Linked DNA regions of Homo sapiens: region 1 is linked to region 2. Evidence: fine-mapped expression QTL. A gene starts in region 2. The other region holds a variant in brackets. All regions are shown on one strand. Distances are between the middles of the regions.

Evidence for each region. PIP is the estimated chance that this variant, and not a neighbour inherited with it, causes the effect.
Region 1: its variant is fine-mapped to the expression of LIPC in whole blood (INTERVAL, PIP above 0.99).

What each region holds. Positions count from the first base shown.
Region 1 is chr15:58,405,535-58,417,324 of GRCh38, reverse strand. No RefSeq gene overlaps it. Among named protein-coding and RNA genes, the nearest start is that of LIPC, 21 kb to the left of the region's middle. RefSeq lists a silencer at 6,561-6,855. The variant T/C (reference allele first, on the strand shown) is at 6,036.
Region 2 is chr15:58,425,202-58,436,991 of GRCh38, reverse strand. LIPC (lipase C, hepatic type) reads right to left here and starts at 5,001. Exons shown (of 9, transcript NM_000236.3): 1 at 4,872-5,001. The coding sequence starts at 4,959. It overlaps LIPC-AS1 (LIPC antisense RNA 1), which reads left to right. Exons shown (of 3, transcript NR_120338.1): 3 at 80-2,091. RefSeq lists a silencer at 6,688-6,982 and an enhancer at 6,688-6,982.

The DNA of each region.
Region 1 (11,790 bases), 20 kb after region 2:
TCTCACCCCTTTTAGAATGCCACTGTCTATTATTTCCATCTTTATGTCCACTTGTACTCAATGTTTAGCTCCCACTTATAAGTGAGAACGTGCAGTGTTTATCTGCTTTTGTGTTAATTTGCTTAGGATAATGACCTTCAGCTGTAGCCATGTTGCTGCAAAGGATGTGATTTTGTTCTTTTTTATGGCTGCGTAGTATTCCTTAAAAATAATACTACAGATCATATATGTACCACGTTTTCCTTTGTATAAATTTCTTAAAGTAGAATTGCTAAGGCAAAGGTTTTATATCTAGGTATCTATATCTACCTATATATTTTGCCTTTACATATACACTGCTACGTTAAGTAAATTTCTGTCATTTTAAGTACTCATTAGCAGTGAGTGTACTCCTCCTCTGTCCTATCCTCCACCCTTGTTAACATTAGCTATTAACATTTTTGTAATTTTATGCTAAATTGATAAGCCAAAATGGTATGTGCATTTTTAAATTTTTCTTTAAAACCAATGGGTTGAAGTTGAATTTACCACCACTTCCATTTTTATTGCCTTTTTTCTTTCTTTATGAATTATCTGTTCATGATATTTATATATTTTACATACTTTATATGTTTTTATATGTAAAAACTGAGGTGCTCACTTAAGAAATTATAATGATTTCAAACACACGCATGCGTATAATGCATAGTTTTGAATACCACCTACTTCCCAGCTCCATCAAATCCTAATATTTTGCTGTACTTGCTTCCTATTTTTGCTAAAAAATAGAGTGCTGTACCTGTATAACTGTGTATCTCTTCTCAAGCCTGATCTTATTTTTCCTGTCTCAGAGGCAACGCCACCCTGAGTTTGGTGTCTTTCATTCTCATCTCTGTGTGTATATGTTTGCAGCATATGTATGTAGCTACGAAAAATATACAGTAGTTCCTCAGTATCTGTGTGGGATTGGTTCCAGGACCACCCACTGATGCTCAAGTCCCTGATACAAAATGGTGTAGTGTTTGCATATAACCTATGCACATTCTGTCATATGCTGTAAATCACCTCTAGATTACTTATAATACTTAATACAATGCCTATACATCCCTTCATTTGCCTGGTTTTAACATGGTACTCAGGATGTGGCAAATTCAAGTTTTGCCTTTTGGAATTTTGTATAATTTTCCCCCCAAATATTTTGCATCCTCGGTTGATTGAATCTATGGATGTGGAATCCCATGGATATAGAGGGATGATTGTACCATTATTTTGTATGTTTTCAAACTTTTATACTCTACACATCTATCTGCAACTTGTTTTGTCACTCAGCAGTGTATTTTCGAGATTTATCTCTGTTGATAAAACACCTACAAATGGTCCCATTTTAAGAAAGTATCAGAATTTGTTCATTGGGTTGATGGATACTTGTGTTATTTAGTTTTTTCATTTTCCTATTACAATATTGCAGTAGACATTGCATCATCCACAAGTGAAAGCTTCTAGAGTTTATTCCTAGAAGTGAAATTGCTGGATTGTAAGATATATGTCCCATCAGAGTTAGTAAGATGTTGACAATTTATTCTTCAAATAAATTACTTCCGTGAAAGTATCGTTGGCAAAATGTGAGTGTTCCTTCAGTTTTTCCACCTCATCACCAACACTTGAGGAGTGTCAGATTATTTAATTTTCACCAGTTTGATGGATGTAAAATGGTATCTCATTGTTTTAATTTTAAATTTTCTGATTACTGGTGAGGTTGAACATTTTCTTACGTGTGTGATTGTTCATTCAAATTTCTGTTGCTGAGAATAGCTTATTCATATCTTTTGTCCTTATTTCTATTAGTTCATTGCAGATATCCTCCCAGTTTGCATTTTATCTTTCATATCGCCTGTAATGTCTTGTTTCACAGAGTTTACATTTTTGTTTAATGAGATTTACACAGTCTTTCCCTTCAGGAATATCCTTAATGTCTTCATTTCTTCAATTTTCCTTTTTTTTTTTTTTTTTTTTTTGAGATGGAGTCTTGCTCTGTTGCCCATGCTGGAGTGCAATGGCGTGATCTCTGCTCACTGCAACCTCCACCTCCCGGGTTCATGTGATTCTCCTGCCTCAGCCTCGTGAGCAGCTGGGATTACAGGCATGCACCACCACACCCAGCCATTTTTTTTTTTTTTTTTTTTTTTTGTATTTTTTAGTAGAGACGGGGTTTCACCATGTTGGTCAGGCTGGTCTTGAACTCCTGACCTTGTGATCCACCAGCCTTGGCCTCCCAAAGTGCTGGGATTACAGGCATGAGCCACTGGGTCCAGCCCAAATAGTAATTCCTTTACAAAAGATATTCTGTGATTTGTTATAATCTTCTGGCATCAGTAGAATTTACCTTAATTAGTGGCTACATGCTATTGTTTTAATTTATAGCTGTATTTTATAAGCTCAGTTAAAAATGATTTTTCTGCCTATGCTCCTTGAGTAACCCATGGATAGATAAAATTTATTGATCAATAAAATTTAGCAAATAGACAGTATGCACAAGCCATTCCTGCCTTTTAGGTCTTTAGTAGATGTTGCTAATTGCCTGCATTATTTTCTTCATCTGTGTATTCATATATTCACTTATTCAGCAGCTGTTTTGGGAAAATCTGCTAATATCTTTGAGCCTGGTTCTAATCATTTCGAGCCAGTTTTATAGGAATTGGCACTTGTGCACATTTGCCATCCTAAGACCGTGTGTTTATGTGTGTGTGCGCCTGTGTGGTATTTCTCACAGGTTTGTGGATGGGGATAATACTCATCTCTTAGAATGAATTGGGTATCAGATCTTGTTTTTCTGTGATTTGGAACTGATTACATAATACAGAAAAATCTGTTTCTTGAGTATGTAGTAATATTGTTCAGTAAATTTGTTGAGGTCATAATATTTCTTGTGGTAGATGAGATTTTTTTAAATAACAGCTTTTCAGTTTCCTTTGCCTTCATCATTATTTTCATGTTATCTACATTTTCTCTTGCCAGTTAATATTTTGTGTTGTCCATTTGGCTAAGCATTTCAAGTTGATTATCATAAATTTTGCATTGCAATCATTTATATTTTAAAATCTTTTGTATCGGTTGTTAAATCACTAGCCTTGTTTTTAATTTTGTTGATTTATACCTTTTCTTTTATTTATTGTATTTCCAAGGGATTGATCTATCTTATAATCTTCTCACAGAATGAGCATCTAAATTTATGTATTATTTCCACTGATTTCCTCTTTTCTAGTTTATTTCTGTCCTTACTCTTTATTATTATCTATTTTCCTTTATATTGACTGTCTTCATAAGATTTTAAGTCAAATGTTTATTTCATATTTCTAAAATAAAAGCACATAGATTTACGCCTTAACTTCTGGGCTCTGATTTATACAAAGCCCCCTCCCTTTTGATATGGGGTGTTTTCAATTTTATAAACATCTCAAAAGTTGTTATCATGTTCTTAATTATCTACTTCACTGGTCCCTAACATTTTTGGCACCAGGGACCAGTTTTGTGGGAGACAGTTTTTCCATGAATGGGGGTGGATGCGTGATGGTTTCAGAATGATTTGAGCATATTGCATTTATTGTGTACTTTATTTCCATTATTATTACATTGTTAATATATAATGAAATAATGATATAACTATAATCTACTCACCGTAATGTAGAATAAGTGGGAGGCCTGAGATTGTTTGCCTGAAACTAGATGGTCCTGTTTGGGGGTGATGGGAGACAGTGACAGATCATCAGGCATTAGATTCTCATAAGGACCATGCAATCTAGATTCCTCACAGGCACAGTTCACAATAGGGTTTGTGGTCCTATGAGAATCTAATGCCACTGCTGATCTGACAGGAGGCGGAGTTTAGTGTGAATGTGACTGATGCGTAGCGACTGTAAATACAGATAAAGCTCTGCTGCTCACCTCCTGCTGTGTGGCCAGGTTCCTAACAGGCCACACACTGGTACTGGGGGTTGGAGACCCCTGTTCTACTTGAACTTGTAGTTTAGGAAAGTTTTTGTGGTTGTTAGACATTGATACCCATTAATTTGTTGCTGCTGTAATTTTTTATTAATATTTTAATATAATTTTAAACTTACAGAAATGTTAAAAGACTAGTATGAACTCCTATACACCCTTTACCTAGGTGCACTGTTGGTTTGTATTTTTCCCTAGTTATCATTCACTCTGTCTTTATGGATATGTGAATGTTTTTCTGAACAATTTGAGAGTAAGCTGCATACATACATATATATCTAAATACTTCAATATATATTTCTGGACACAAATATTTTCTTTTATAAAATTCAAGAAATTTAACAGTAAAATCAGGAAATTTCATGATACCATATGATTAATCCCACCATCCACATTCAAATTGTCAGTTATCCCAATATTGTGTTTTTTAATATATATAAAACATATATTAAAAACATATATATAAAACATATATAAATATAAAATATATGTGTGTTTTATATATGTGTGTGCGTATACGTGTATATATGTAGAAAGACAGAAATTGAGGGTATTTTAGAATTTACAATGACAGACAAGAAACTGAGATGGCTGTATGCCTACCGCAACCACCATCTGTAGGCCACCCAAGAGTAAATATTTATTTTCTTCTTGTACTCTGTTTTTCAGAAGTTCATGTTTATTTTCAAATTTACTATTTTTTATTATTCACATACTATATATTCATAGTAGAAAAGATAAAGCAATATAACAAAAATTGGCAGAAATATCAGTGCACAGAGATAACCACTGTTAGTATTTAGATGAATATTTTATAGACTTTTGCTTTCAATCGACAAAAACTCTAGATACTTTTTCTAGTTAAATATGAGTACATTAAAAATGGAGTTATATTGTACGGCTTACGGTTTTAACTCTCTTTTAAGTCTTAGTTTATTTGACATACTTATAGGTAATCTTCATAACAACTTTGCAAGGTAGAGCCTCATTTTTAGATGAGGAATCCAAGGTTCAGAGAGGTTCAGTAAACTGCCCAGGTCACACTGCAGTAAGGAATGTAGTTTATAATCTAAACCCCGAACTGTTTGCTGCAAAGGCTCTTGGTTAGATTATTCTTTTGCCCAAGGCTCCTTTCATTGCTTTTACTTATTCACATTTAGCTTTATTGCATGTGGTGAGAAAATATGTATATTTTTTCCTCTTGATTCAATTTTTAGGGCCTTATTTGAGAGTTAGTATATATGTACCAATGCCCCCATATGGAAAAAAATGTGTAATCTATGTTGGTATTGAGTTCAGTGTATGTCTATTGGTTCTAACTTATCAATTGTATAACATAACCTCTATTGTCTATTTTTGTCACGTCTTCAATGTCTTCTAAATTTTTGTCTATTTAAATTTGTCTTTATTTTTTACTCTTGTCTATTTTTTTCTTAGCCTTGAAATGAATTAAACTCTCCCTTTACAATTGCTTGTTTTTTATTCTATTTCTCTTTGCATTTCTGACTTTAGTAACCTCTGTCTTCACAGTTGATTTTCTATTTTTTATCATAATCAGGAGCTTCTTTGTATCCTCTCCCTGTGTTTTTGGCTTCAAAATCTCTTTTATATGCTATCAACTTTACCAACTATTTTCTTTTTGTCGTATGAGTTTCCTCATTAAACCTTTTTATTTTAGCATTTCTGCATTTTTTGGGTAACAGATTCCTATTTTTAAGCAACATACGTATTGTTGGGTCTTATGTTTTAATCCAATATGAGAATTTGTCTTTTTAGAAATCAATGGCCTAAGGCCGGGCGCGGTGGCTCACGCCTGTAATCCCAGCACTTTGGGAGGCCGAGGTGGGCGGATCACAATGTCAGGAGATCAAGACCATCCTGGCTAACACGATAAAACCCCGTCTCTACTAAAAATACAAAAAATTAGCCGGGCCTGGTGGCGGGTGCCTGTAGTCCCAGCTACTCGGGAGGCTGAGGCAGGAGAATGGCGTGAACCCGGGAGGTGGAGCTGTGGCAGTGAGCCGAGATGTTGCCACTGCACTCCAGCCTGGGTGACAGAG[T/C]GAGACTCCGTCTCAAAAAAAAAAAAAAAGAAATCAATGGCCTAAATATATAAAGTTCTTTGGGGAGAAGCTAGTGTATTGATATGAGATGGGCTCCCAGCTACTAGCTGTGGACTTTCTACAAGTTCCTTAAATACCCTGTGAGGAAGCTACTTACAGGCGTCTTTATCTGTAAAATAATGTTAATAAGCACACCAACGTGATAGAGTTGCTTCGAAGATTAAATGAGATCAAGAGCAATCAGAAATAGAAGCATATTAAAGCATATTAAACTGATTATTTGTAAAATGCAATTGTCAATATTTGCTATGATAGACATTATGTCTGGAAATACCATCCAAAGCAAGTTTCTTGGCAGTTAGAAAGCAAGTTGGTTAAACGATGATCTATGCTCAAAATGGGGATAATCAGTTCTATACTTTTCTCCAACCATATTTTAAATTTTTCTTTGAGATAATGGGAATAACTTACAAGAAAAACTGCTGAGAAGCAGTGGTCCAAAGCCTTTTTAGAAGCTCTCAGGGTTCAGTTCAAGTTGTCCATCTCCATTTCTGGCTGCACCTGGAGCTTCACAGCTTGACTTAAATTCGGCCATGTCAGGAATCACTCACTGCCTTGCTTTCCATTTAGTTAATTAAGTGCTTAGGTTTACAAATAAGTTATTTGCTCTCATGACGGGTATGGAAGCTGCAGGCTTTGCTGTGCCTTGGCAATTCTCATCAGGCGTGGAAAAACTGAAACTAAGAAAAACCAACCAAGCGATGATAGATTTTCCACTTCCTGGATTGTGTGACTTGCTCATCCAATGAAAGGCAATGAGGGTGGGGTGGGGGGCAACCAGAGATGAGGACTGATTCTCAGCTTGTTGTTCTCCTCAGCAGTCCTCCAGCCCCTGTACAGCTGGAACCTCTGCATCAGTGAAAGCTGCTAGGAATTCAAAGTGCGTTCACATTCACTTCTGCTCCTCAGGATCAGAGGCAGTGAGGAAAGCTAAAAAAAAGTCTGAGGTTTAAATTGGAACCCATTTTTAACTTTTCAAATGTTCTTGGTATTTTAAGATCCAGAAAACCTTAAATCAGACAATTCTATATTACCAAACTGAAGAATAGTCTATAATATCATAATCTGATATGCTCCAGACTGACCTGATTTATTTTTACTTGTATGAACTTCAAATCTGATGGCTTTTATTTGATCCCTCAGAGGATGCTGTAGGTCCATTTCCCATCTGATGCAATAGAGGTGTCTTTTTTTTTTTTTTTTTTTTAAACTTCTCTGATAATAATCATCATCTGGTGTCTTGTTACACAAATGTTTCTAAGTTCCTCCCTAGAGATTCTGCTTCAGTGGGTCTGGGATGGGGCCTCAGATTTGTGGTCTCTTTTTCTGTTTGTTTGTTTGTTTTTTTGAGACAGAGTCTCACTCTGTCATCCAGGCTGGAGTGCAGTGGCGCGATCTTGGCTTACTGCAACCTCCACCTCCTAGGTTCAAGTGATTTTCCTGCCTCAGCCTCCTGCTTAGCTGGGACTACAGACACACACCACCACACCCGGCTAATTTTTGTATTTTTAGTAGAGACGGTGTTCTACCATGTTGGCCAGGCTGGCCTCAAACTCCTCATCTCAAGTGATCCACCCACCTCGGCCTCCCAAAGTGCTGAGATTACAGGCATGAGCCATCGTGCCCAGCCGGATTTGTGTTCTTAACATTAGCTTGGGCAACAGTGGAGTAGACTGAGGGGATAGATTCTACTTTTACAATTAGAAAGCCTTGGGCTCAAGTCCTGGGTCTTTCACTTGCTCGTTATGTGGTCTTGCACAAATTACTTAATCTTCCTCAATCTCATCTGAAAAACAACTGGAGATAAAAATATCTAAAAGTGTTGTCAAGAGGATTAAAATAACTAACACCCTTGATAGCATCCACTTTTCTCAGTATTGCTAAATCATTTCTACCCAGGTTAATTTGAAGATTATCTGTGAATTTATTTAGCATGCAGGCATAATGTTTTTTACTTATTTTCCTTGTTTATTTGGTGTATATTTGTGAAGCTTTTGCTGTGTGCCAGACACTGCGATTTTTAGAACACACTGAGCACTCCCTGATGGTATCACCTGCTCACATGGTCCATCTCAGGTTGTGTTTTCGTTTTTGTTTTTTGAGACAGAGTCTTGCTCTGTCTCCCAGGCTAGTGTGCAGTGGTGCGATCTTGGCTCACTGCAACCTCCACCTCCCAGGTTCAAGCAGTTCTCCTGCCTCAGGCTCCCAGGTAGCTGGGACTACAGGCATGCACCATGATGCCTGGCTAATTTCTGTATTTTTGGTAGAGATGGGGTTTCACCATGTTTGCCAGGCTGGTCTCGAACTCCTGATCTCAAGTGATATGCCCGCCTCAGCCTCCCAAAGTACTGAGATTACAGGCATGAGCCACTGTGCCCCATCCATCTCAGGTTTTTGAAAGTACTACCCAGCTTTCTTGTGTGAAAGAAAGCAGGCCCCTAGTTATTCATGGAGCTTCTTGGATTAGGAAGGCCATGTCCTTATTCCTCCTTTGTACCAGAAATTCAATTTTTCTTGAATCTAATCGTGTATTTTTTTCAAAAGAAAATATATATAAAATTATTCGATTTGATTTTACACAGAATATGTTCCAGGTACTTTGCATTAAGTGAATTGTCTCTTTTTGGACAGAAAAACCTTTGTACTTTTCCCCCTCCCCTCATAATAGCAAGAATCCAATGGATTTTTGATGATTATGCCTATGTTTTCCTTATATTTAGTTTTGCTTCAAAAGAATTTAAAGCACTTTTAAAAGATAAAAACAATGCAAGACATTAAGAGGAAAATTAAGTAGGAAAAAAGGATGGGAAAAATATAGTGAATTGATAAATGAAATTACACTTCAAATATATGTTGTACAGTCTTTTATACTTCCCAGTGATGGGCCAGATATTTGGCTCTGAACTCTCTAGCTCTCATTGCAAACCCTCTGCAGACAAAAGATGGAGGTGATGATTCTCAAGCCATGTAGATGATTATTGGGATCATCATCTATATGAGTCTTGAACTTTGTTTTAACTTTTCCACTGGCCCAAGACTTTGGGTCCTAATCAACATTAGGGTCATTAAGAGTTTACAGAAGGGTCATGAGTACCATGGAAAACTATGTGCTCGCCAATCTTCCAGCCAAACACAAAATAGATCAGGGAATAAGGAGGCCTCCTGCTGCAGAGGAGATGATAGCCAGGTGGGAGAGCTGGGCCAAGGATCAGCCAATTTTCTGGTACAGAAAGTGTAACCATGGCAACAGTAGTGAAGGTAGCTCTAGTTCCATCAGCAATGACACCCTTAAGAGGTACCGGCAGAGAGAGAAGCCTGTTGTACATCTGGGCAAGGGTCTCGGTGAGGGAAGTTCATGTAATTTTTAAGCATAATCGTTGGGAGAAAATAAACAGCCTCTTTCATGTTAACCTTGCAAACTCAAATAGACAAAGTGAAGGCCAATGACTGGCGGTACTGCCTGGCTGAGGCTGGATGTGACTGCCTTGCCTGGGAACCTGTAGCCTGCCTCAGGTTTGCCTTTTATTCTCTTTACTTTCTAGTAACAGTGCTCACAGGACTTTCAATAAGCAAAGCCCAGAGGGGGAGAGTTGCTTTTGAAGCCACACTCTTGTCTGCCTCATTCATTTCAAACAGAGACACTTCTGAAAGAGACGAAGGCCTGTGTACAAACAACAATGCCCACTGCATTCTGTTGCCTTCAGCTGTGATGTGGTGGCTTTTGATTCTACACAGAAGGTCCTTGTTTCAGACACTGATTGATGGGTCTTCTGAATGGAGGAGGCAGCAAGAACAAATGAGCAAGGCCCCTGGTAAGGCCAGGTGCTTCAAGAGGATGGGCTGGAAAGTGCTTAAAATAAAAGGTAAACACAAGCCTCCACAACAGCAAAAAATACCAAGGCACTGAGTTCTGAGTGGTTGATAATTGGTAGTTCCTAAGGATTTCCACATGTTTGTGCAAACACATATAAGCTCCTTGGAGAACTCTGACCTGGAATTTCAGACTTTTTGGTGGAGGAACCAAAAGTTAAACCCAAATAGATGTCATAAAACAGGTAAAAGTAATTGAAATAAAGAGCACTGGAGGTCTGAGTCTGGTTTGAGGCAGTGAAACAGAAAATAATGCAGTGAAAGAACAGGTGATGGGGCATCTCCGTCTCAGAGAGGGTTGTGATTTTTCACCAGAAACCCATGGAAAGCCACATAAAGGCTCATTCTAAACACAATGGACAGTGTTAGGACCTGCTGTGAGGAAGCTGTATGAGATGTGCCTCCCTTCTCCATCAACCCTTGTCCTTCCGTTTTGCCTAACAGAAACAAACCAGTGAAAAATCCACATGAGAAATCTGGCTATACTCAGTACTTTTGCAAGAAAACACTATGAAACTCCCTGTGAGTCTGCATTCTTCATAGTCCGTGGGGGAGCGTGGTGCAGGCTGAGGAGATGGGGTGGGGATAGTGAGGGTGGAGGGAGAGGACGGGAAAGTTAAATGAAGCAGGGATCCTTGTCCTGATCAGTGGTTTTTATACATTATGTTCTTATAAAAAAATAATTTTCACCAGCTAGATGATGTTCTACTGTTTAACTAAATTAGGGGTGTTAAAATAGAGATCATAAGAATGACGGAATGGACTCTTTGTGGCAAAAAGATACTAAATTATAAACAAGACCCAAGGCCATGCCAGGGTAGGGTTAAGTCACACATCCCAACACTTAAAGAATAAACTAGGTTCTAATAGCTGCAAGGTTTTTCTTTTTCTCTAGCCGCTAAATAAGCACTGGCCTCTGGAGAAGCAATATTGAAATAATTGCAGCTCACCAACCACCAGACACTAACTCATCCATCTCCCTACCCCTTTTCTGCAAGCCATAACTACTACTTTGATTGGATAAGAGACTGATTTCAGTAACTTTCTCCTGGTTAAGAGTCCACTGACCATAGACTGGTTCTGGCCAGTTTACAGAGGCTTGCACAGAGTGCCTTCCTGTCCCCTGCTTCACCATTTGACCTATAGGACCTAATTGCAAGGAATTTAAATGTTAAGTCTGTACCCCAAAGTGAACATGGGACGCATGTAACATGCATGTTTGTTTACTAGGCATGTGTGTACCTGCCTTCGGGAATATTCATAGCTCTTCCTATAACCTGTTGAATATGTGTACTTAGCTAACCCGTTCATCACAAATTCCTGTTCTACTCTTTCCTCCCTCAAAGTGCCTGCTTTTGGTTTCTGCTGGAGGCTGTGCTTCCAAGCCTGTGGGATTTCCAGCCTGCAGGCTGCAACCCTTTATAAAAAACAAACCTCTCCTCTCCAATATTATAGCTCTGTGAATTTATGTTGACAGGTTAATAACTCAATTTCACAGAAAAAAATTAAATCAGACACTCTTTTTTGCCCACCCAACAGCCCTTCTCTCCTTTAACTTTTCACTTGCAGAGTCCTACTTTTGATTGGCAGTCCACCTGTCCCTGTCATGATTCAGGGAAACTTGACCCTATCCTGAACTCCAGGAATAAGTCCTAATTACATATTTTTTAGTGGTAACTGTGGTAGGTAAAATTTTAAGATGGTCTTATGATCTTTACCCTCTGGTGTCACATCCATGAGTATGGCAAAAGGCTTATTATCTATATTATTATCTAATCACATGAGCCCTCTTTGGCTAGTGGCAGAAGTGGGGAAGTCAGAGAGA
Region 2 (11,790 bases):
ATTGTTTCCAGTTTGTTGCAGTTTAACAAGTGTTGCTATCAACACCGTTCTATGGGATATTTTTTCTTTTTCTTCCTAGATGGTCTTTTTTGAAAGGTATTTGGGCTTGAAAAGCACATGTACTTTATCAGCTGTGTACCTCTGCTATTGTACAAGGAAAGCCTCATTCTCTTCTGTCCGGATACCATCCTTCAACACCCTACTCAAATGCCGCCTCCTCCAAGAAGCCTTCTTCCCTCCACTTGGAAGTAAAATCTGCTTCTCTACTCATTCCTCTCTCATGGTCCTCATCTCATGCCATGTTCTGTTCTAGCTGATAACATTTACATATGTGACTCAGTGGTATACCTCATGTATTTGACACACAGAACGGATCATTTTAATGACCCTCTGCTCTATAAGACAAAAGTATTTTCAGTCATATTTATGTAAAAATCAGCAATCATCACTACTTTCTCGATTTCTTCTTTAGTTATAAAGCAGTGAACAATTTTTAAAAAGACAAATACATTTTAACTTTAAGATATTCAAATGCAGTAAAAATATTTTTCGTATGAGTCCAAATTTTTACCTATCAAACAAGATGTTACAACTCATTGTTCACAATCTGTTTTGTTGCTTTAAATTTTAAACACATATGAGAAGCTTACAGGGGTCACCTAGGATGAGAGAATTGAAATAATTCAAGTTCTGGTTTTTTGTTTGTACAACCACTACGCTATCATTTTTTGTTTCAAATCTACTGTTTACATGCAGAAGCAGGTAATAAGTGCCACTGAGGTTGGAGACATAAGGACGTCAAAGGATCTGAACCATCGCACACTTACTCTTGCAACAAGAACACGCCCCTGAGTCTGTGCATGTTGGGGCCAAGTGCATAACCGGGAGTTCTCCAGATTAATGTCAATGTAGAACACAATATTTATGAAAGGATAAATAATAAAGATGTGATGAATTTGAAGCTTACATATACTTACTACATAAAATCCAACAGTAACCACGGAGATTGTTTAGAACTTAGGCCATAAAACCATTTTTTTCTGGAAAGAGCTTTGCCTTTATCGCTGATACTCTTTCTTTTGGGATGGAGTTTCACTTTGTTGCCCAGGATGGAGTGCGACGGCGCCATCTCGGCTCATTGCAACCTCTGCCTCCCGGGTTCAAGCAATTCTCCTGCCTCAGCGTACCAAGTAGCTGGGATTACAGGTGCCCATGACCAAGCCTGGCTAATGTTTTGTATTTTTAGTAGAGATGGCATTTTACCATGTTGGCCAGGCTGGTTTTGAACTCCTAACCTCAGGTGATCCACCCACCTCGGCCTCCCAAAGTGCTGGGATTACAGGCGTGAGCCACGGCGCCCGGCTGACATTCTTTATAATTGTGATAATGACAGGCAGATCAGCTTTTGGTTATATTTGTATTTAAATTCTCCACAGACGGTTGCTCTTTTATTGATGGCACATCCCCCCTCCACCCAGTCCCATGGCCCCCTATTCCCTCCCCACCCCACTCCCACCCCATTTGACTGTAAATTCCTGCAAGGTGGGGACGGCTGTGCAGCCCCCTGTTGTACAGTGCCCACTGCACAAGCGCAGTGGTTTGCAGGCCAAGGCCCCAGGGAGATCGCCTTAGGATGTCCTCCCTTTTCCTCTATGGGAGGCCAGATTTTCTTCCTACATTTCAAACAAAGCAATACATCACAACAGACTGAGTACAGAAACAGGTAAGATAATCCAGCTGTCTTGGGAAGCCAGATATTAGAGAGATTTGCAACATTTCTTTGTAAAACAATGTCACTCTTCTCCATTTAAAACTTATTTGGAAAATACAAGTTATTTTTCATAAAATTACATTATATGTGTTAATATGCAAGGGTTTATTATCATTTTAAAAAGTGTTAGCAGATTTTAAAGATTTCTCAGTTTTAATTTCTAATGAAGGAAATATTGATATCTCACATAATAAACACTGTTTGGGGTCCTCAGTGATTTTTAAGAGAGGAAACGTGTGAACAGAGTGTGTGAGTTGTACTCAGGCACTGCGTTACGTATGGCAGGTGCTCATGTATGCTTGTGACACTCATGAGGGACTGACTGAATAGGTAGCTTTCAGCTGCTCCTAGGATTTGCAAGCTGAGGCTGGGGTGGAGGGGAGGGAGAAGGTGCCTGTTGATAGTGGGCCCAGTACCGGGAAGGTGGGACTTGCCAGGGTCTAGGAGCAGCGTTGGCTCTCATGGCAACACCGACTGGGGAACCTGGGTCTCAGGCATTGGGGCTGGGCATAAGTGTGATGTGCCATGTGGGCTTCAAGCAGCTCACGCTATCCAGTCCCCCTTAGTGCTGAAGGGCAGGAACAACTGTCTAAATCTCCCTCTCTGTGAGAGGAACTGAGCAGAATGTTTTTCTAGAAACCTCTGGCTGTCAAATCACTGGGTGTGGGCTCGACACAGAGCACTGCGGCCTCAGTAGACAGATTGAGGCTGCAGGTACCTCTCCCTGCTCTGCCCTGACCAGCTATGCGACCGCCGGCAAGGCACTTAACTGCCAGCTTACTCAACCATATGGTGAGGATGAGATAAAATGTCCGTGGAGTGCCTGGCACATGCTGGGTGTGCAGCACATTAGTGACTCCATTAGTAAGATGTCATTAATAATAAATACTCAAAAGAAGTAGGCTGGGAGGAGGGGCTAAAGAGGAAGGGTCCTTGAGGGAGTACTTCCTGGTGCTCGATGAGTGACAGTTGAAGCTTGGCATAGATCATGGTTTCTCAGCCTCTGCACTAATAATGTTTTGGGCCAGACAATTCATTGTTGTGAGGGCTGTCCTGTGCATTGTAGGATGTGAAGCAGCTTCCCTGGCCTCTACCCACTAGATGCTGGAAGGGAAGCACTCTCTCCCTGGTCTTAACAACCAAAAACCAAAAATGTCTCCAGACATTGCCAAGTGTCCCCTGGAGGGCAAAATTGCCCCTGTTGAGAACCATTGGTGTAGAAACTTTCCTGACAAGGGCTCCACCACAGGACACCGGCTTCCCTGCGGTTTCCCCAGAAAGACATCATACCAGCCACATGCACACAGATTGGGCTCACTCATTGCAGAAAGAATTCTGCCAAGAGATTCTGCTTCCAAGAGAACAAGAGGCCTCCTGACTTGGATCCTCTTTTCTGAGGAACCCTCTTGCTAATAGTGGCCACTTCTCTCAGCATTTGCACAAACTAGGCCCCGGGGAAAGAAGCAGGCTGATCAGGACAATGAGATTGCTCAAGGAAAATCTGGACAATACCCAGAAGCCTGGGGGAGGCCATCCCTCCCTTCAACCTCTATCTCAGCACTGACAGCTTCCAATTCCCATGGCTCCATTGCAAAAACAGTCCTGGCCAATCCACAGTAGAATGGATAAAGGAAGTGTGGCATGGTCCCGCAGTGGAATGCTACAGCAGTGAGAATGAATGAGCCTCAACTCCACGAAACTGCATGGTTGACTTTCACAAACATAATGTCGAACGAAAGAAGCCAGACGCAAAAGAGCAACTGATGTGTTTCTATTAATGAAAAATCTCCCCAAAGGAAAAAATCATATATGTTAAGGCTCAAGGGGCACACAAGGAAGGCTTTGGGGTACTGGTTCAGTTTGTGAGAACTCATTGAGGATTTATGATAGAGGCCCTTTTCTAGAAGTGTGTTATAAACTTCATTAAAAAGTAAACAAACAAATACAACATTCCGGGGCAAAGGGCAGGAAAGGCCCTTTAGCAAAATCACTATGAACCAAGGGAATAAAGATTACCAGCAATTTTACCTGTATGGCTCTAAATTATTATGTAAGGGTCATTTTTGGATGTGGCTTTATAAATGAGATGATGTGTCAAAAATAATTAGTATAGTGCTTGGCACAGAAAATACTTAGTGAATGGCAATAATTAATACTGCTACTCAGTTATTAACTGGCCTATGAAGTAAAATAGTCAAATACAAAGGAACAGCCTTTTTCTTAAAGGGGAAAAAAGCTTCTGAAATTTTTAGGTACATCCCGTTAGGGAATTTCTAATTCTCAAAGTTGTCGGAGCTCTCTCCAAGGCTAGTCTTAGAGAAAAGAAAAATCTCAGACTCTACCTTAGCGTTACTAGCTCCTGACCAGTAACCAGTACCAAAACAAATTCCCAAACACCTGTCTAGTCTGGCCAAATTGTTCAATTAACTGATCCGTCATTTATTGGTCCACTGCTTAGCCTGGAAGCTGGGCTCCACTCTACTACCTTCCTGATAAGGCATTTGATCTGTCTTTCGCCATCAATCTAGTTTGTGAATTTACAAACAAAACAGGCAGGACGGCTGTTGGATTCTTCAGCCTCAGACTAAAATTTTGGCAGCAAAACAAAGTCTAGAAATTGTGCAATGATATCTCTACTTTAGACCTGACTGGAAATAGAACTCTCATAAATTCCCCTCTCTTCTGAGAGAGGCAGGCAATTAGACAACCCCAACCCGACAGAGCATTTCATTGCAAGCCTGGCTCCCCGGTTGCAAATTAGATGCCACATTAACTCTCAGGAAGATCTGAATCGCTTTCATATCATTTGCCGCTGAATAACTTTTAGCATGACTGTTTCCATATCAGATACGCAAGAGACTTCACTGCTAGCTGCAGGCACTCTTAGAAGACTTTTAATCCGAGGATGATTTTCTAAAATTTCATTTCTGTTTACAAACGGCTACGTGTCCCTGTGAACCTGTGAGGTCGTGTATAGAACCACCTGGCACGCTCTGAAGCAAGCTCTGTCCCATACAGTCAGAAACCCCTGGATTCTTTGTGACACACGTTTTAAAAAGAAAAGTTCATGCCCATCTCTGGAGAAAAGTCAGGCTCTTACCTGGTTTCAGGCTTTGTCCAAGGGCACTTGATTGGATAAAGATGCATAAAACCAACAGAATGGAGAAACACAGGGGACTTGTGTCCATTTCTCCGTTTCACCCGGGGTCCAGGCTTTCTTGGTAATTTCTGAAGCCAAAGAGACCACAATGCCTATTAGATACTTTGTTAGGGAAGACTGCCCATTAATAATTAACCTCTCAACATGTTATCCACTGTTCAGACCCTTTCTTTACTGCCCCCAACTGCAAATCTAATTATATCTATTTTAAAAAGGTCGATTTACAGAAGTGCTTCTTATCCTGACACATTTTGAGAATAAAATACCTTGTTATGTATTCTTACCTTTTGGGGCCAAGGTCAGAGTTCCAAATTAATCAACTTAAAGCTACTGTGTTGTGTTTGGAAATTCTGCCAAAGGTCGGGGTAGGTGGCTTCCACGTGGCTGCCTAAGCCTCCCTGTGACAGCGCTGCAAGGGGGATGCTGGCTCAGGAAAGTGGTGTTTCAAATTGCAGCCTAAGCCCAAAGAAAAAGAAAAGGGCCCTGCCACGCAGAGAGCCCCCAGAGGGTCCAAATTTCTGTTGGGTTCAGTGAAATTGGTGATGCTTGTGGTCAAAGTGTGGTGCAGAAAACCCTTCACCCCCGTGTCAAAAGGAGCTGACGAAGAAGCAAAGATGCCCTTGCCAAGTGACCCATTGAGAGGTGATCCTAGAGTAAACACACTTCTTCCCCCTCTGTGTTCATTAATGTTCCAGCTGTGTAGAGGACTGAAAAGTAAGGCCACTCAGCAAAATCAGGTAGGGAAAAGGCGACCATAGATGGCTTTTGTGATATTTTTGGACCTCTAGTTTTACTTTAACTTTCTTCATTTGTTCAACATTTATATATTTTGGTATGCCTACTAGGTGCCAAGCACTGTTGCAGGCACGTGGGGTATACAAGTCCTTATGTATCAGTGGAGGTTCTTACCTTCTGGAGTTGGATAACGGACAGTAGACATAATAAAGAAGAGATTTCTGGCCAGGAGCGGTGGCTCACTCCTGTAATCACAGCACTTTGGGAGGCGAGGAGGGCGGATCACGAGGTCAGGAGTTCGAGACCAGCCTGACCAACATGGTGAAACCCCATCTGTACTAAAAATACAAAAGTTAGCTGGGCGTGGAGGTGAGTGCCTGTAATCCCAGCTACTCAGGAAGCTGAGGCAGGAGAATCGCTTGAACCTGGGAGGCGGAGGTTGCAGTGAACTGAGATCGCGCCATTGTACTCCAGCCTGGGCGACACAGAGAGACTCCGTCTCAAAAAAAAAAAAAAAAAAATTAGGTAGACTGGTAGAATGTAATGGGAACCACTACAAGAAAAGCAGGGGGTTGGGGAGAAGGTAGGGATTTTAAGCAGAGTGGTTAGAGTGAATTGCATTGGGAAGTTAAACTTTCAGCAAAGGTTTGAAGGAAGTGAAGGAGTTGCCCCTGTGGACGTCTTGGGGAGGAGAGCTTCGGGCAGTCTGTGCAAAGGCCCTGAGGTAGGAGTATGCCTGGTGTGCTCCAGGAATAGCAAGGAGGCCAATGAATGGGGAGACATTGTAAGGACTTTGACTTTTATGCATTGACACATGGGGGGCGACTCTGAGCAGAAGGGTGATATGATTTGTATTATAGTTTTAAAATATCACTCTGGTTTGCAAGTGAGCCAGGGTGCAGTGGGGAGATCTGTTAGAAGGCTATTACAGTGGCCCAGTGAGAGGTGATGGTGGCGTGGCCCAGCATGGTAAAGGGCAACTGCGGAGTGGTGGATGGGTGGTGGATATATTTTGAAGGTAGAGCCCACAGGATTTTCTGACTGCTGAGTTGTGAGATGTGGGAGAAAGAGAGGAGTTAAGGATGACTTCCAGGTTTTTTGGCTTGAACAAGCAGATTAATGGGGTTGCTGTCAGCTGAGAAGGGGAAGCTGTGAGTGAAGCAGGTCTGTTGGGGGAAGATTAGAGATTCAGCCTTGGCCACGTGGGGCTTTGAGATGGCTCTTAGACATCCAAGTGGAAACGTTAAGCGGGCAAAATTAGATAACATGGTAATTATTGCCTGGACGAGCCTCATTCAAAGGGCCTTCTGAAGCCACCACCAGACTTGGACGATCTTGACCCAGTCTAAAGCTGTGTTCTGTCCTATGACTGTACCTTCCTCCCAAGCCCCGAAGCTTGCGGACCATCCCGTCAGATATACAATTTCTTTTTCTTTTTCTTTTTTTTTTTTGAGATGGAATCTTGCTCTGTCGCCCAGGCTGGAGTGCAGTGGCGCGATCTCGGTTCACTGCAACTTCCACCTCCCAGGTTCAAGCGATTCTAGTGCTTCAGCCTTCAGAGTAGGTGGGACTACAGGTGCCCACCACCATGCCTGGCTAATTTTTGTATTTTTAGTAGAGACGGGGTTTTACCATGTTGGTCAGGCTGGTCTCTAACTCCTGACCTTGTGATCCACCCACCTCGGCCTCCCAAAGTGCTGGGATTACAGGCGTGAGTCACCGTGCCCATCAGATATACAATTTCTGAGCAAGGACTTCTGCCTTGGATACTTGGCTGGCTCCTGCACAGTTAAGCAGAATCTGAAAGTTCCACTTTTTTTCCTATAAAGCTGGCACGTAAGACCAGCTGGCTACCCATCTCGGGCTCCTCTCCCCTGTGCCCACCCTCATCTCCTCTCCTCTGGGTACTGCCAGTAACCACCGCCACTCCCCATTTTATTCGGGACACAAACTCATCAAAAGACACCAGTGAATCCAAGTGCCTCTGAAATACCAACCGTGTGCCCCCACCCGCCCCCCAAATTTCTGCAGAGTACACTTTCTTACCACTTTCTACGTGGTAAGAACACTTTCAACATGGGAAGAAGCCTTCAAGATTGTTTCTAGCTCTTGTAGTTCCTTTACTTGCACCACCCCAAATTCCTCTAACATCATCTCATGCCAACTCAAATTCTATAAGGCTCTCCTGGAAAATGACAAGGAGGAGTGGGTACCTGTCCCCTTTCAGGGTGTTGTCTGCTTTCACCTCTACCTAAGCTCTTCCAGCCTGCCCCATCACCGGGTCTGACCTTCCAGTGGTGGTTTTAATGCACAAGCTCTGTTGTGTTTTCTTGAAGCTGACCAGGGAGGCTACTGGCAGGGAAGAGGGGAGGACTTCACAGAGTATGAGATTTCCTGAACTGGGGGGGTCCTAGGCCTATCTACTTGCTGTATATAATATTATATAACCTTAATGAGTTCAATCTCCTCACCTATAAAATGGGGACAACATGTATCTGAGATAATATTTTGAGATATCAACTTATTTTTCTCCCAAACTGTCTCCCTTCCACTTAAGAGGGGCAAAGTAGAGAGAAGGCTACAAATCTTTTGTCTTCCAAAAATATAGGACCTTAGGGCAAGTGAATTTTATTTTATTTTATATTATTTTATTTTATTTATTTTAGAGACAGGGTCTTCCTATGTTGCCCAGGCTGGCCATAAACTCCTGGGCTCAAGTGATCCTCCTGCCTTGGCCTCCCAAAGTGTGGGCAGGTGAATTCTAGCCAACAAAGAAAAGCAAAAGACTAACATTTCTTGAGGGGATGTGAAGGGAGAAGGAACCCCTCACCTTGCCATCACTAGAAAGACATTCTCTTGGGCTTTGCAGGTGGTGTGGAAGGGGGAGGTTTGTCTATGGGTCTGAGAGCAGAGGGGACAGTACCTTGCTTCCCAGAAATCCTGCTGGAAGAGAAGAACCCAGGGAGGAAATGGCTGTGTTGGCACATGGGCAAAAGATATACCTGGCTTGATGTAGGGTGGGAGAGCAGTGAGTCTCTGGGGCCAGCAGGTCATGTTGATGGGAGGATGGGCCCCTCAGTGGCCACCAATGTGGACTGATGACAGAGGACTAGGTCACACTCCCCTGACCCCATGCCTGGCTATTGTATTTGTCCAGAACTATGGCATAACTACTGGGGTTGGGGGTGGGGTGGGGAGAAGAAATCCAGAAGGCCTGAAAATAGGGGTTAAGAGTCAGGAATTTAGATGGGTTACAGAGAATAGAGAAATTTATTGCACATCAGAATCTCTGGACTGAAATTAATACCTCTAGGAAAAGAGGTATGCCATGAATATTAGAGATTTGTGTGTAAGGTGTCAAGCCAAGTGCCTGGTTCATAGTAGAGGGTCAATAAATTATAATGACCTATTTTGTGGGCAATATACTTAGTGGTCAAGGGTCCATGCTTTGAGGCTGGGTGCAGTGGGCAGTGGCTCACACTTGTAATCCCAGTGCTTTGGGAGGCTGAGGCAGGAGGATCACTTGAGGCCAGGAGTTTGCGACTAGCTTGGGTAACATAGCAAGACCCCATCTATATAAACATAAAAACCAAAAAATTAGCCTGGTATGGTGGCACACACCTGTAGTCCTAGGTACTTGGGAGGCTGAGGCAGGGATATTACTTGAACCCAGGAGGTGGAGGCTGCAGTGAGCTATGATCACACCACTGCACTCCAGCCTGGGTGACAGAGTGAGACCCTATCTCTAAAAGAAAAAAAAAAAAAGAGTCCAGCCTTGGGAATCCGACAGATACAGGCTTGAATTCCTAGTCTGTCACTTGTGCTTACTAGCTGAGTGAACTTGGATAAGACATTGTGACTGAGCTTTAGTTTTCTTCACCTGTATAATGGGACTAATAATACCTCCCTAGTCTGATTAAGTGAGGCAATGCATGTGAAGCCCTCAGCAATCCTAGGCCACAGGAAATAATTAATGGTAGCTAATTTTTTTTAATGTTTAAATTCACTGAGGGGATCACGAAGGTGTCCAGGAGGTAGATAACAATAAGACCACAGTGATATAATTGTAGCAAAAAATGTAAGGGGCAGGAAAACACAAGGGTCTGGATCAGTGGCTGCAAAATCCAATTGAGCATGAGAATAAGAGTCAGCTGGGGAGCTCAGACAATGACAACTTATGGGCCCATCCCAGGAATACTGAGTAATGGAATCAACACTAGGGTCAAGGCCCAGTGAACCTTCATTTTAAGCAAGATCTCCAAGTAATTCTTGGTTACACAAAGTTTGAGAACCATTGCCTCAGAATGGTGCTTGAGAGATCTTCTGGGGCAAAAGAAGAAAATAATATAGACCTTTCAGATTTTTCTTTGTATTTCCTTAGACAGTTCATGTTTGTGCACGTATAATGTTTATAGCATATAAGTACTATATAATTTGCAGGTGGTACTACGGAATATACTAGTGCTATATTATTTATAAACAAATAAATAGATATTGGGGATAAGATGTGTTGTCAAAAAATGGGTAAAGCCTCTGCCTTAGAGAGACAGAATGGCTCCCAGGGCTGCCAGACCTGACTGTCATGTGCTTGACTCCAGCCATGCATCTGAGCAGTCAATAGATCCATTCATAGCATCTTTGGTCATTTCCATGCCCAAGGAAGCCCAGCAGTTTCTTGAGGCCTCTTCATTTCCTATTAGCTAAAGAGGAGGCAAGCCTGAGCCTCTTAGAGTTTGGAGCCTCCAATGGAGTGATCAGCATGGTGCATGTTAGCAGAGCTCTGTGGCTTCATCCTTTGCAATTCTTTTATTTATTTATTTATTTTTTGGGGGGATGGAGTCTTGCTGTGTTGCCCAGGCTGGAGTGCAATGGCATGATCCCGGCTCACTGCAACATCTGCCTCCTGGGTTCAAGTGATTCTCATGCCTCAGCCTCCCTAGTAGCTGGGATTATAGGGTGTGCCACCACACTTGGCTTTTTTTTGCTTTTTTTTTTGTATTTTTAGTAGAGATGGGGTTTCACCATGTTGGCCAGGCTGGTCTAGAACTCCTGAGCTCAAGTGATCTGCCTGCCTCAGCCTCCCAAAATGCTGGGATCACAGGCATGAGCCACCATGCCTGGCCTCTTCCTTTGCAATTCTTTAAAGACGTTTCTATTTTGGGTGACATTGCACTCTGGTCTGCAGTCCTCTATCTAAAGTAATAATGGTTTTATAATTAGGTTTTTAAACATTGCCCAGTTCTTGCTCTGTCTTAATTTACAGAGCTTCTTGAATAAATAAAGATTTCAAGAGAGTGGCATTTGATGACCTGAGAATGACCTTTTTCTTTAGTGTCATGGTGATAAGAAAGTTAATTAGGAGAGAAGAAACAGATATTTTACAAGGATAAAGCAAGCAAATCCCAAGAGGAAGAGGCCAGGGGACCAAGTTGAAGTTCACTGATGACAGAAACAGAATTTTATACCCAGAATCAGGTTTTCTTCTTTTCATCTTCAGGAACTGGGATATCTTACCTGAGAAAGGCAAGCTTTTGTTGGTGTTATAATAAAATAATACTTTAAACAATAAAATTTGACACTGTTATTTCCTAATTTTGCAGTTGAGATTTAAGAGGTTGGGAACTGGTACCAAACTGTATCTCACCAGTAAAAGACAGAGAGAGGAGAAGTCAGGGGATCTGAGGCCAAGTTCTGTTCTCTTAACAACCACAAATCCTTAATCCCTATGTATCTGGCTTTCCCTGGGACTGAATCAGGTTTCTCTGCACATCAGCCTAGTCCACTTCCAAGATGAAATGAATTTCCTTGGATCATGTTATAGGAAAATGACTCTATCCTCTTATACTCCTGCTTGGGGCCAGGGTGCCATGAGGAGAATGACCAAGTTTTTATTGGGTCACTCACTGATCTGTGTGGACATTCTTGCGCCATGAGGGAATATGGCAAAACAAGTAGGTAAACCTCGTTAATTTGAGTTAGCCTGGAACGTCCTCATTTGGAAAGTGGTTGGACTGGAGTTTAACCTTTTCCTTATCTGTGTTAGAAAAAAAAAAAGACCTGATAAACAAAGGAAGGGTGAAAACAAGATTGCAGAGGACATTTTAGACTATTTGGAAGAATTAGG